2 linked regions of the Homo sapiens genome follow. The protein of the gene in region 1 purifies or fractionates together with the protein of each later gene. This does not show direct contact. Each region holds a gene or a part of one and is shown on either strand. Other genes may lie near its edges. The genes, in order: RASSF6 and KDM3A.

Region 1 (7,351 bases):
AAATTTTTGAGTTCCACCACACCAGTAATTCCAGAAGATGCTGTCGGCAGACTGAGCAGCGCCTCCCAGACCCAGTGGTGGCAAGATGCCTTAAGTGCCTTAATACAAATTTGCTTCTCTGACCGTTTCTGCTTTCTTTATCTCCCTGAGGGCACCTTGAGCAGAATAAAATGCATGGCATTAGTACCATGTAAATATGCAATAGAACAGTAAAGTTTTGGCATTTCCAATTAGATTCCACTTGAACTGAGGGCAGTGGCATGCTCACATAGAAGTGTGTTTGATTCATATTCTGCTTAGTCCTCTCTTAGATTCAATGATTATAATACATTATTTCTATCTCAAAACCAACAATCACTGACTGCAACCAATATTACTTAATTAAGTGATAGTTTGTATATATGCCAACTCTTGACCTTTACTGTCTCTGCAAATAAAGCACATTTTAAGAAAAAGTATGGAGCCAAATGTTTCCCAGAAACCATCACTCTGTTAACTCTTTTCCTTTTTTGAGAGAACTAGATACTGGATGGAATTATAGATGCTTTGTCTCATTTTCTTGAAGTGATGTAATTGCATATAACTCTGCTCTTCTCTACTCCAAGGTTCCAGGTCATAACTTTGAGAAAACAGTTTCGTTTTGGAGATGAATACATAATTGTAACTTTCTATTGCTTCTTCAAGCTGAAACAATATTTTATTAAAAAGACTCTCCGTGTGTACAGCCCTTAACATACTCTTATCTCATAATTGAAATACACACTTGCTATTCTAGTGTGATACTTTCTGTTCTTTTTTTAAGTAGCTTTTACTGGGGACGTGGGTGAGAGAGATGTAACATATATTCCTTGTCTATGATTTAGACAGTACATACAAAATAAAAAAAGAAATAATTATCACACATAATCTCTTAGCTCTTAATTTTACCATTAATATTATAATATACCTCTCTGTATGTTGGATGTATTCAATATTTTGTGTATGTTTTATCTATATGCCTGCATATATTCACTCACTTTAGAAGACACAAAAATGAAATAGCAATAATTCTGTCCTAAAGGACCTAGTAATCAAATTAAGTAAAATAAAATATGGTTAGAGAGAGAAAGCAGTAAGTAATTAGAAAGCTACAGAAAATTTCCTGTGAAATTTCAGAAGCAAGAGAAATTGTCTTTGGCTGGGAAATACAGGGAAGTTAGCACCTGTATATATATGTATAGATAGATAGATAGATAGATAGATAGATAGATAGATAGATAGATATAGATATATGTATATATATTAGTTCTTTGTAAAATCATTAGCATTATGACACTTTGTGCACCTTGTGGCCTCAGAAATAAGAGGCTATAGATATAGATACAGGCTATACTTTCTGTGCCTAGCACGGTAGCAGGTGCAGAGAAGGAACTCGTGAAATATTTGTTGAATTTACAAACGAGTGAACCCAATTTTCCACTTTTAGATATGTAACCATTTAATTAACTCATGGTTGGATAACAGGAAGTTACTTTAAATGACTGACCCATTTGATTTAATTTGTACTAGAATTCACTTCCTGTCCTCTGGCCTCATTCTGGTCACAAGGCAACTGGTAAGTCCAGGCAAGCCCACCTCTAGGCAGGAATGCAGAGCAGGGGGAGGTGAACCACGTTCCAGCATTGCTGGAACGCTAATGCTGCCCAACACTGCCTCCTCAGGCTCCATCCAGATCTCATTGGCTTGTTCAGACCAATTCTACCTCTCCTATACTTCTAGTGCTGTTGATTTCTCCAGGACTTAATTGCTGACCTATCTAATTCCCTGTTTCTCCAGCTTCATTGTTTCTGGACAAAATGAAAAAGTAAATAACCAAACTTATTAAATAATGATCTTATTTTACACACAATCTAAGTCAATAATCTCTGGCCCCAGGGCCTACATAGATTTGTAACAACCATCTTCCTCCTCAAGTTGTAGTTTATTATGTTCTACCAAAATTACTGAACATCCCAAGTAAGACCTCCAGGCTTCTAGAACTGTAATTTTTTCTTTCTTCATAAATTCTCTCCCTCGTTGCTATTCATGACTTCTCTGTTATTCTCCTCTTAAGTCCTTGAGAAAATTTGCTCAGATGCTTATATCTACCAAGTCTTTATAATTTAGGAGATTTTCACAAGGGCCCTAGCAGGTTTTAGTTTGCTATGAATCATGGTGAATGGGAATGGGAAGATGAGGATGAAAAACTATTTGAATTCATAGATCTATGCCTCACTTCATTGTTTTTGTTTGTTTATTTGTTTTGCTCTTTTTTTTTTTTTTTTTTTGAGACAGAGTCACACTCTATCACCCAGGCTGGAGTGCAGGGACACAATCTTGGCTCACTGCAACCTCCATCTCCCAGGTTTAAGTGATTCTCGGGCCTCAGCCTCCCAGGTAGCTGGGATTAAAAGTGTGTTCCACCACACCCGGCTAACTTTTGTATTTCACTTCACTGTTAATACTAACAATGGGACTTTTACCAAAGCATGTTCTTACCTTTCAGGTATTTAAACTGTTTGAATATTTTATTTACCCAATTTTTAGATCAGACATGAATAATATTATTTCCTACTCAAATATTATGTGCTGCCTATGAATGAAAATTTTATCCTGTTTTTATTTTCTTACATTAAATTATATTCAACTTTCTTCCTTCCTAAAGTCAGAAAATAATATAAGAGCCTTGGAAACCCTTTCATCACATCTTCTGAAGTCTTCTGAAGCTGGCTATGAGTTACCTCAGCATAGATCAACAGTGTGTCACTATAACTACATTGCAATTATTTGCCCTCTTTAATGATATCTTTGATATTTCTTATGAATGCAAATAAAGAGTGAGCCAGTTGGAAAGCTACTGCAATGATTTTTCAGTCCATCACTGCCAATTTTCACTTTGTAATTATAAGAAGCTGCTATCAGTGGTTCTTCAGTTCCAAATATCCCCAGTGTCTGGTGAGGGAAGCAAGCTGTCTGGTTCTTAGATGGTCTTTTTGCTATGCTCTGACATGGTGGAAGGGTCCAGGCAGCTTCTGGGGTCTCTTTTATAAGGGCACTAACCACATTCATGAAGTCTCCACCATCATGAACTAATCACCTCCTAAAGTCCTCACCTGTTAATACTATTGCATTGGGGGTTAAGTTTCAACATCTAGGTTTTGTGGGGACACAAACATTCAGACCACAACAGAGGGAGGCCCTCTAGTAGGCTGACGCAATAATCCAGGAAAAAGATGATGGTGGCTTGGCTTAGGGTAGTAGCAGTGGAAATCAAAGCTTTCGAATTTGGAATATGTTAGTGGTACAGTGAATAGGACTTACTTTTGGATTGAATTTGGCTTATGATGAAAGAGGGAAAAAATGAGACTAAATATTAGTTTTGATGCCTAGATGGGAAAGAATTGTGGAGGAGGAAATTTTAGAGCATGGGAGAAAGTCAGTGGTTCTTTTTCAGCCATGTAGATATCGAGATGCCTGGTACACATCTAAGTAGAGATTAGGTAGGTGGTGACATGCGTCTGGAGCTCAACAGAGATTATGGGATGGAGACAGATTCGATTACCTGGAAGAATGTATAGATAGAGAAGAAAGGATGGCTGAGAATGGACACTCAAACAAGCCAGTATTTAGTGATCATACAAAGGAGGAATCAGCAAAGGAGACTAGTGTTGAGGCCTGTGAGATAGCAGGAAAATAGAGTGAGGTGATTGTTATTCATGGTTTGTCTCAAAAGCATCAAGAAGAAAGTGTTTTAAAAGGTAGGAAAATCAATCTTGTCAAATGTTGCTAAGAGGCCGAGAAATGAGGAGAGAAGTGAACTCTTTGGCAAGGTATAGGCTCTTGGAACATGGATGGAGAGGTGGAGGTAGGGCTAAATTAAAGGAATATATGATAAATAATCTGGACCCAGGAGGAAGAAGGAAGTGTTTGGACCCCAGGGTCATCACTGGGGGATTTCAGTCGGGGACATTAATAACCCTTTTGGTGGGTTATTAGAATGACAAAATCCAGGGGCAAAACTCAAGTTTGAGAAGCTGGAGGAACCTGTGTAACCTGTATAACCAAGTTGCCCAGACCAAATCCTGTGAATAAGTAACTGGGATTCACTGGGCTCATGGAGCATGTTGTGTCTGTGTGCCCAAGGCAGCATAAAATGCCCATGTGGCTTCTGACGTATAGAATTACTTTGCCTGGTGACTAAGCTTCTGTGTCTCTGGTATGAGTCCTCCAGGTGTCCTGCATGAGACCTGCCAATGATGTGCTATCAGAGGATGCCATTTCCAACTAGAGAAGCACAATTCTTTGAGCAAGAAGATAGCAATAGAAAAGAAAGTAAGGTATAAATCAATAATGACAATACAAGGTAGAAAGCAGAATGATGACAACAGTGTGGATTCAAAGGACATGGGGAGACTTTAAGATTTCCCACTGGGGACTAAAAGGGACCAGATATCTGGACCTGCAGTGAGGAGGGCCCTCTGCTGCCAGGGGAAATGGGTGAGAAAAGACTCAATGACATGAAATTTCATTAGATTACAAGGCCTGGTGTTGAAGAAATGTTTCAATTTGGAGCCTGGAAAGGTAGGTTTGAGTGGAATTGAAGAAAACTTGAGAGTCAGGTTAAGGGACTTGGGCTGTATTTATTAAGAAAGATACCAAGATGGTTTGTGACCAAATAGGTGATGGGATGATCGGAATGATAAAAGCCTAAAATGAGACTCCAGCCAAGCATTCACCCTGAAAACTGTAACAAAGTACCTAGTGAGTTTAACAACATGCTATAAAGAAAAATATGCATCAGAGATTTTATGAGAATAGAAGAATAGCTTTCCTGTTTTCTTTTTTTCCTGGTACTCTGAAGAGTTAGGACATATAATTTCCTAATTTTTATTCATCTTACCCAACCCAAATAACCAGATTTGAAAGGAAAAGGAGGAAATCCACCCCCTTATACACAACGTTTTTTTTTTTAAAAAAAAAAAAAAAAGAAAACTGAACTCTCTCATCCATCTTTTTTATTCTGGCTCTATCCCCTAAAATCTTATAGACTTGGAGCCATGATAACTGAATATTCAATTTTTGCAAAATGGAATGAACAGAAAATATTATACTTTACATCTCTGGTCACACCCTAATGCCATTTATATGAACATATAAAGGAGGAGATTATTCACATCTGACCACAGTTTCCAGAGCTTGAAGGAGACTTGAAAAATATTACATCATACCTAATCAACTCTTCAAGTCAGAGCTTGATTTTAGCTGCCTAGAATTGCAGTTGTCTTCTGCTGATTGGGGCAAGGTTCAGCCAGTTTGGGTGAGTTATTGCAATAGAAGGAATATGCTCCCTTATACAGAATTATATAAATCAATAGAGTCATATTTATTTTGCTAGAAATATATCTAAAACAGACTTACCAAATTGTTCAATCCATCCGTGTCTGGAGTTACTGTTTCTGTAGTTTTTCATTTACATAATACATTTTTCTGTATTTTTGCTCACACATGACATACTACTTAAAAACTTTCTAAAACCTTCTTATACTCTAGAGACACAACAAAACACTCAACTTAAATCAGAAACTAATTTTTTAATGCATTATAGGAACAAATCATTAATATTATTCTCATGTTTAGGATATCCTCAGACCATCTCAAAAAGGAGGAAAAGATGACTATGATGGCTCACCAGTACCCCTCTTGGATCTTCATTAATGAGAAGACATTCATAACCAGGTAACCACACACCTTATATTATACATTGTCCTACTCACCAGTCATTTGTGGAATATACCGTCAAAGTTTTCTAAGCATGATGTATGGTCAACAAGATCAATAATATGAATCATCAGTAGAGATACTAGATAAGAAGTTGGAAAAGTATGTTCCTAAAGACTCTCAAATTTACTCTCATGGAACAATCACTAATATTTTGTTTAACAGTGGTTTTACTTTATTAAAAGCAACATTTCTGTTTTAATAGTTGGGATAATATTGAAGAGCAGCATTAGGTGAAAGATCTAAGGCTTCTCATAAATGATAGTTCTAAAGAATTAACCCCAGGGCCAAAAACATTATGTCCTGTCCTAACCTCTCCATCCCTTGCTCCTCATGACACTTTATTTTTACTGGTTCCCTCTTGACATTAGATTATGCAATATATGGCCAACATCCACAGCTTTTCTTGTACGCAGCAAACAGTATCTCATATTGCTTTGGGAACAATAGAGTAAGGGCTTAAAAGCTATAAGAGTAGAGATGAAAACTGAAACTGGCCAAGCTACAGCAGAGGCTGGGGGCTGAGAGGAGATGAAATCATGAAAAAATAAGTGGTACTGAAACATGACCCAAATCTTATGGGGGGTGGAAAAAGGAAAAAAGCCAAATAAATGACAGAGAGAAGGAGAAGTGAATGATGCAGGGTTGGGCAGTAGGAAAGTGAAGGAAACAAATATGATCAAATATGGAAATAAAGCCACAGCTGAAAGATAAGGATGAACTATAAGCAGTGGGAAAAAGACCTGATGCAAAGGATAAAGGATCCACTGACTTATTCCTCAAACACTTACTGATTACTCACTGTGAGCAGGTGTATTTTTGGACCCTGAGCATTCAGTAATGAACCAAACAAAACCCTTACTCTCATGGAGTTACATCATAAAGTCGGGATGCAGTCAATACATAAGATAAATGCTGAGGAAATGGAGTAAAGAGTGCTAGAGATAGAGAGCGGAAAGGGTTCTGATTGCATATAACCTAGTTCCTTCCTCAGTGAGCGGGAAGCACTGGAGGAAAAGCCTGCAGAAAGGGAGAAAGCAAGCCATGCAGCTTTCGCAGGTATTCCAGGCAAGGGGAATGGCAACTCCACAGCCCTAAGGCAGATGCATATTTGTAAGGGTCAGGGAGAACAGTGTGGGGAAATGGAAGTAGAAAGACAGCAGGAGAAGAAGCCAAATGGGCTCAGAACATGTAGGGTTTGATAGGCCATTATGAGGCTTGATCTTTCCCACTAAATAAGATGAGAAGCTGTGGAAGGATATTGAGCACATGAGTGGCAATATCAGTCTAGCTGCTGTGTTAAGAACAGAGTAGAGAGGGGACAAGAGTGGAAACAGAGAAGTTACCAAGGAGCTGACAGTCCAGGGTGGAGATGAAGGTTGCTTGAACCAAGGTGGCAGCAGTAGAGGTAGAAAACAATGGTCAGATTCTGGATATAGTTTGAAGACCAACACAATAGGATTTCCAGAAGGGTTAGACATGGGTGTGAGAGAAAGAGAATAACCAAGGATAATTCTAAAAATTTTGATCTAGAAAAATGGAGTTAACATTTTCT
Region 2 (7,351 bases), on another chromosome or scaffold:
TTTGGAGAACATAGCGAAGACAACAACAGACCTTGTCCTTTTTGAGAAAGACACCCACAGGTCTAAGGCTAGAAATGGAAAATGACATGGAAGTAATTATGGCAGGAAGAAATAAGTAATTTCCAGGAGGACTGGAAAAGTAGGGGCCAAATAGTAAAAATGAGTAAATAAAATTCACTGAAATATTCAAACAACTAGAACTGCATTCAACAATACATACTTCCTTCAAAATGGCCAACTCGAATCCAGCCCTAATTAAAGGCCATGTGTAAAACTGACGAAGATCTCAGTTATAATGATGATGAAAGAAAGCTCTGGTAAATGGAGAAACCAATCTTTATCCCAGGCATCCTCCTTGTTAGACAGTGAGTATTGAGTCATGTCAAAAGAATAAAAGTCCAACTCAAAGGGTACTTTGAATCCTAAGTAACTAACTTCTACTCAACAACACAGAACACTGCATTTAATTGTAGCAGATGTTAAGACAGCTAGAATGCCAGCAGATTGACCTAAATGTCCGAACACTGAAATCACTAATAAAAGTACATTCTCTCAATGATGTATCACACACCATTAAAAGTCATCTAAAGACTATTAAGTAACATGTAAAGATTTTACAATGTAAAATTAGGTACAGTAAAGGGAAAAACACAAAATTGCATATGCCCTACAACTGCAACTATGAAAAGAAACACACAAACATGTGGCCAGGGAACGAAAGGAAATATGTAAAAATGAAAGCTGTGGCTGTATTACGCATTAGGATTATGGGTGTTTTCCACCTCTCCCTCCCACAAAATCAATTTTCCAAACATTTTGAATTGTTTTATTTCCATTTTAAAGTTAGCCATCTCCTCCTTACCATAAGCATTATACATCTTGGGGCCCAGATCTGGCCGAACAAAGTAGTTTGGCAGCCTAGAGGCCAAATTCAGTTTGCCATCTCGCCTTGTGTACTCGGGCAGTGGAATGTTGGCCATCAGATCATCAAACCTAGAACAACAGAACCAGGAATTTGCAAAGTTAGATTGCTTTTCTAATTCATTATTGTGTAACCTGTTTTGTTCCTTCTACACCAAAAGGAACAAATCCATCTGTGATCATGCAGACTGACAGCCATCAAATATTTAAGATGAGAAGTACAGCAGTTACAAAGATGTCTTCTCTCTCTCCTACAACACACCAATGTGTCAAAATCAGCTGTAACCGTTCAGACAAAAGATCTCAGCAATAAATTCTAGACAAAAAGTTATTCTTAGAGATATATCATTGATTAGTTGTGACACCCTTTTCAAAGTTTCAAGCTCAGTCAGGAAAATAGATCTACCCAGTAGATGTCTTCTTGTCTAACTCAGTGCTGTGACTACATTGTCCTGACCCTGACAGGTCAGATTCCACAACTGCCTCCAAATCAGCCTTGTAAGAAAAAGTGAGCCTCTTCTCTAGCAGGGCCTACCATGGAAAATCTGTGGTGTTCCATTAGTCAGCCAGGCCTAAAAGCCAATCACTTCTTCATCTCATCTAAAAATAAACATGCCTCCAATGACTACAGACTAGAAATGAAAAATCAGTGGCAGTATAATTACAGAACTTTTGTTATTTTCTTGAAAACTGTTTTCTCACTACCTCAAAAAAGAATTTATCCTACCAAGTGAAGGACAGAATCATCTCTCCCCACCTTCATAATCATACCTGGAAGGCATCATATCTCTAAAATCTTCTCCTGGTGGCCAGTCCTTAAGTTTCAACACCATTGGTTCTTTTTCATTTTTCAAACGATCTGAAAGGTAAACAGAATGAACTATTACTATTTATAATTCAGAAACAGACCAAAATAAATGACAAATTAGCATTTTATGCCTCAACAATACAAATAAAATATGTCTCTGCAAAATTTTCATAACCTGATAAATTTAGTATACAAATATTACTTTTCCTTAATTTTCCCCTCCTACCAACTATCCACCATTTTATTTCTGCAGTGTAAAAAAATCCATTTGTACCCAGGAGGCAGCAAGGTGCAGCAAAATAAAGATCACCAACTAATGGATCTGTGTCAGGGCCTTGTCTTTCCTAGAAGCTTATTAAGCTGCTACTCATTCTTGGGAGATTCAGCCGCTCCCTTTTGCCCACTGCATGTAGGTGGTATTTCAACAGCTGTCATCGATCCAATCTGCTCCTCCTCTACAGTGTTCCAGAAGAAGTGAGCAGCATCCCAACTAACCAACAGCAATGCACGTCAACCATCAAGGGTCACAGGTGTTTAGTAAACCCATTTTTCTGAGGCCAGCATGCAACAGAAATTACTTATTCTGCTCAGAGAGAGAGACTGACCCTATCTGATGTTCTGTCCAGGGACAACAAAGACCAACAGAACAGGTAATAATGCCTCAGTGTTTAAAAGCATAAACATTGTAACAAGGAAGGGGAGGAGAGACGTTAATTTTAAACTCCAAAATCCTGGAAAATGCTGCGGCTGCCACTGATGGGTCTCAGACTCCTGCCATTCCTGTGTCCCCTCCTTTCACATCCCCAACCCCCTTAAAAGATCTTTCATACATACTTGGAACATCTTCAAATCCATCCCAGAAGTCTCCTACTGTGGCTCCTGTGATGATTTCATTGGTCCTACAATTAACTAGGTCTACTTCCTGCTCACCAAACTCTTTCCTGAAGGATTCAGGTTTCCAAAGTTCAGAGTTCAATTTATGATGCACTCCAGACACCATCACTGGCTAAATGAAGAGAAGGAAAACTTTAGTCTGAACTCTGCCAGCTCTGTCCCCACTCCCGAAGGCAGTCCCTCTTCACACTGCTATTGGTATATTTCCATGGAGCTGGTGCTCCGTCTCAGATGGTGATGTGACAGTTTCGGCTTAGTTCTCTGAGCTCCCAAAGCACCTCCAACCTTCACCATTCATCTGCTACACACCCTTGCTCTCAAACTACATGGGTAAGCATCTAGGAGAAAGGATCACCTCTCCTAGTAAGATCTCATTACTTACAGCAAGACGGACTGTGAAGAAGACAAGCGCTGGAAGGAGTGTCCAGTGACACCAGTCACCAGTGAAACAGGGTGACTGACCCCACCGTACTTGAGCCTGTTATTGCCAAGCAGGAATATGGCCTGTGACACCCCTCACTACTACTGGCTGTGTGAGGGTGCCAAATCTTTTGGCCGTCTAAGACAACCCAGAAGCTCTAACCTTTATGTGAAATAGTCTAACATTAAAATATTGACAAGCAAGAAAGAAAGCCTGCCGATAAACTGTATTCAGCCCATCATTTTGTTTCTTGTCTATATATGATTAAATGAGCAAATCCTATTAGTACACTGGATGGAGAAAAACATTTTGGAAATTTATTTTTGGTTAAACACTCACATCTTTCTGTTTGGCAATTCTCCCAAATTCTTGTCCAAGAGCAGAGTGTTCCTTTAGCAAAGACCCTATCTGGCCAAACAGAGAAGCCAGAGATCCAGAAAACAGAACCAAAACAAGAAAGCACAGAAGCAGGCCTAGAAATTCTCCTAAAGATATTAACCGGCACTTAAGATCCAACAACACTGCCCTTTGAAGCAGGCACCTGGGGACTATGTGACACCACGCGGCCCTAGCCCACCTAGAACTGCCTTCAGCACAGGCTTTTCATTCAGGTAAGAGGGGTGCATGATTTTGTAGCACATTTTGTCTGATCTCCCAAATCCCATCAGCCTGTAGTCACACCCTCACTTCCTCTGCTGAAGTTTACCATAGGAATCACCAAGCCTGGATGCCCTCGTCAAAAACCCAACAGGGACTGGTAGGAAGCAACAAAAACCTGACTGGAAAAGTCCAGCTTAGGACCATCTGCTTTAAAAAGTAAGACCCATGGCCACATCCTGACCTGATTATATTCACCTGAAACAATAAAGAATAAAACAGGAGGTGAAGGAGGGGGAAAGCCTGGGGTGGGGTTGTCAGAAGTCTGCTAAAGGAACTGAGAAGGGGGTTCTGAATAGGGCAGGAGGATGGGAGGCCTACATTACCTGCCCTTGTTTCCAGCACTCCCTAAACACATTCCAGTTGCTCTTATTGTTGGGGTCTTGCAAGCACAGCAAGCGATTATCACAAAGCCAATAGTGAGGAGTGTCAAAGCCCAGAATGCTGGGCTTGATGGTTAGTCCTTGAGGCCTCTTAGATAAATCAGAAGTCGTCTTATTTTGCACCAAAGAGGCAAAGATGTCATCAAGGATTTTTGGTGTATTCTTGAGTCCATTTTCTGTCTGAATTGGAGAAAGAACAAAAGTCTCAAATATGTCATTCCCTTACCATCAAGAAACTCCATTCCCATAATGAGTATAGATTACATATCCAGAAGATTCCAAGCCAGGACCCCCAGGCAAAAAGGTACGTCCCCTGTCCCCACTTGACAACTCATAGAAGTGAGGTAACAGGAGAAAGTGGCCCAGCTCAGAACTATAGTCCCATAAAACCCATCCTCCAGTGACTCAGCCTTCTGAACCCACAAAGGTAAGTATGTGATTCAGTCTCCTTTCTACTTTCAGTTCCAACTTCTCTACTCTCTTCCTGTTCTGTCTTCAACTTTAAAACATGGAATACCAACAAACAAACACATACCTTTCCTGTAGAAGAATTCAAGAGATTCCGGAGGAAACCAGAATTGTTGTTGCTTACGGGTGTCAAAATTGTGCTGTTAAACGTATGGAGGACTGTGCTGGATTTGCTTAAAGGTGGGAGGGGTGGAAGGCATTTGATTTCATTCTTTAAAATTGGCATTGTTGGTTGTTTTTCTAAAATAAAACCAAAACATCCAGATGAAAAAACATTCTGAAAGGCAAATCCCTTATTAGTATTCTACTAGCAGAATTACTTTAGAACTTGCTTTCTATTTACTGAAACAAAAAAAATACTTTAGGGAGTAAGTATGAATGATATGATTTACTTAGACGATTCCTCACTGATGTTAAAAACAATAACTATCCAGTACAATGGAATTTTGTAAATTGACCTTTGTATCTAGCAACCCTGACAAATGTTTAGTAAATGTAGATTCTTTTGGATTTTTTGCATGTACTGTCTACAAATATTGGCAGCATTCTCTTTACACATTTTTTTTCCCTGAATGCACTGACCAGGACTTCCAGTACAATGCTTAATAAAGAGTGAAAACAGATATCCTTTGTCTTGTTCTTGAACACAGAAACTGTTTAAAAAAAAAAAAACAAAACCAAACAAACAAAAACCTCAAAGACCAGCTTGGCCAACATGGCAAAACCCCACTTCTACTAAAAATACAAATGTTAGCAGGGCGTGGTGGCAGGCGTCTATAATCCTAGCTATTTAGGAGGCTGAGGCAGGACAATGGCTTGAACCTGGGAGGCAGAGTGCAGTGTTGCAGTGAGCCAAGATCATGCCACTGCACTCCAGCCTGGCTGGACAGAGCAAGATTCCGTCTCAAAAAAACTCAAAACAAATTTTTAAAAAAATTCAACGACTATTTATGATGTCTCCAGTCTTGTTTTTTGGTTTAAACTCTTGATTAAGAATGTTCTTAATTTAAGAAGTTTTTTGTAAATCATTAACAGGTACTGAATTTTACTTAATGTTTTCCTGCATCTTGTCCCATGATTCTTCTACATTTTTGAATGTCAGACTGTATCTTCATTTCTGGAAAAACCTTGAAAAACTTGAATTCTTTTCCGGCCACTTGCTAATTGTCTTACTTCGGCTCAAATGAGCTGGTTTCTATATGCTTCAGCTTCCTCATCAGTAATACAGAAATAATGAGCAGTATTGATGATTGGGCATCACAGAATTACATCACATGTAAAGAGAGGGCCTGGACCACAACAGGAGTTTGAATATTCCTTTTCCTCTTTCTAAGGTATGTATAAACTCACCAGCTGTGCTCTTGCCAGCTTTTCAAATTATTTTTTTCTACAACAGTCATCTTAGACTTAATTTATGAGTTCTTTTAAGAGCTCCTTATCACATTTTTAAAGCTATATAAAGGTTTTTCCAGAAATTCAGATGTAGTCTAACATTCAAATATTCCTTCATTTACAGTGTCAAATTTGATTCATTAAAATTTTGCTCCAGATCTTTGCATGAAAGAAGTGGCCTGCAATTCTTCTCTTCTGTAACACAGCCAGAAGGTGGAAGTCCCTAAATTTTAATGCAGCAAAATTTCTCCTCTTTGGTGCTGCATTTCAAAAACACTTTCATTTGTGGCAGGTTCCAGGATGACTCCAGAGAAGCACTTTCCATTCCACACGACTTCTAACCACTGTTCTCTCAAGTCCTTCCACGAATGGACTAAAATACTCAAGAACAAACACAAAAGCAGGAAACACTCACCCTTGTTTTCCTTGTTGACATTCCCGCTGGTTAGGTCGGCCAGCCAGTTTAGAGGAGATGTGCTGGCTGGACAGGCAGGCTTCATGCTGCCGGCTGGCTTGGAGGCTGCTTCCCCACCCACAGCTGCTGGCTCCAACACTGAGGGATTCTGCTGGAGCACTGCACCAAGAGTCGGTTTTTCTCCAGCTAAAGAAGTCTGTGTTAAGCATTAAAGGACGATTTTACATAAGCTGAAGAATGACAGCTTCCTTTTCTTTTCTTCTCTCCTAATAGCCGACCAACAAGTAAGATAAATATCCAGAACAAAACCACCTAATAGTTAGCCCTGGGTATCCCCACAGCTGCAGTAATCCCGCACTAGTAGAGAATAACTAAAAGGTAGGAGAGATGTCAGCAACTTAAACACAGCAAGGTATTACCCCCCGCACCCTTTCACCAGCCCCTGCTGGTACATATCCCTATTACTCTATGTACCATGCTGGTTTAAAATGACCAGTTTGTGCCTGTCTCCCCTATGAACTCATCCCAGAATTCAGGATAGGCACAGAAAACATGGTTAAAAACGAATAAATGACGCAGGCAGGAAAGGTAAAGCGGTGATTTCAGAAGGAAATGGGATGCAGAGAAAGAGAAAATGCTATTTTGACTTAGCTTTAAAAATGTGATGAGCTCTTAAAAGAACCCATAAATTAAATCTAAGATGACTGCTGTAGAAGAAAATAATTTTAAAAACTGGCAAGAGTGAGTTTATACATACATAAGAAGGAGGAAAAAAAATATTCAAACCCCTGTTGTGGTCCAGGCCCTCTCTTTACATGTGATGTAATTCTGTGATGCCCAATCATCAATATTGCTTCTTATTTCTATATTACTGATGAGGAAGCTGAAGCACATAGAAACCAGCTCACTTCAGCCAAAGTAACACAACTAGCACGTGGAAGGAAAAGAACTCAAATTCAGTTCTGACTCCAAATATTACAAGTCTTCTGCTC

Evidence for each region.
Region 2: the proteins of RASSF6 (region 1) and KDM3A purify together in Homo sapiens (affinity purification with mass spectrometry; 3 studies listed by BioGRID and IntAct, with this or other methods). This does not show direct contact.

Annotation. Positions count from the first base shown.
Region 1 is NC_000004.12:73,610,134-73,617,484, reverse strand, and holds part of RASSF6 (ras association domain-containing protein 6), read left to right. Parts: intron 1-1,548; coding exon of another isoform or gene 1,549-1,594; intron 1,595-4,241; exon of another isoform or gene 4,242-4,355; intron 4,356-5,655; coding exon of another isoform or gene 5,656-5,689; coding exon 5,690-5,754; intron 5,755-5,808; exon of another isoform or gene 5,809-7,351.
Region 2 is NC_000002.12:86,479,371-86,486,721, reverse strand, and holds part of KDM3A (lysine-specific demethylase 3A), read right to left. Parts: intron 6,556-7,351; coding exon 6,360-6,555; intron 4,793-6,359; coding exon 4,620-4,792; intron 4,265-4,619; coding exon 4,028-4,264; intron 2,736-4,027; coding exon 2,564-2,735; intron 1,781-2,563; coding exon 1,693-1,780; intron 994-1,692; coding exon 863-993; intron 1-862. UniProt on the Homo sapiens protein: Histone demethylase that specifically demethylates 'Lys-9' of histone H3, thereby playing a central role in histone code.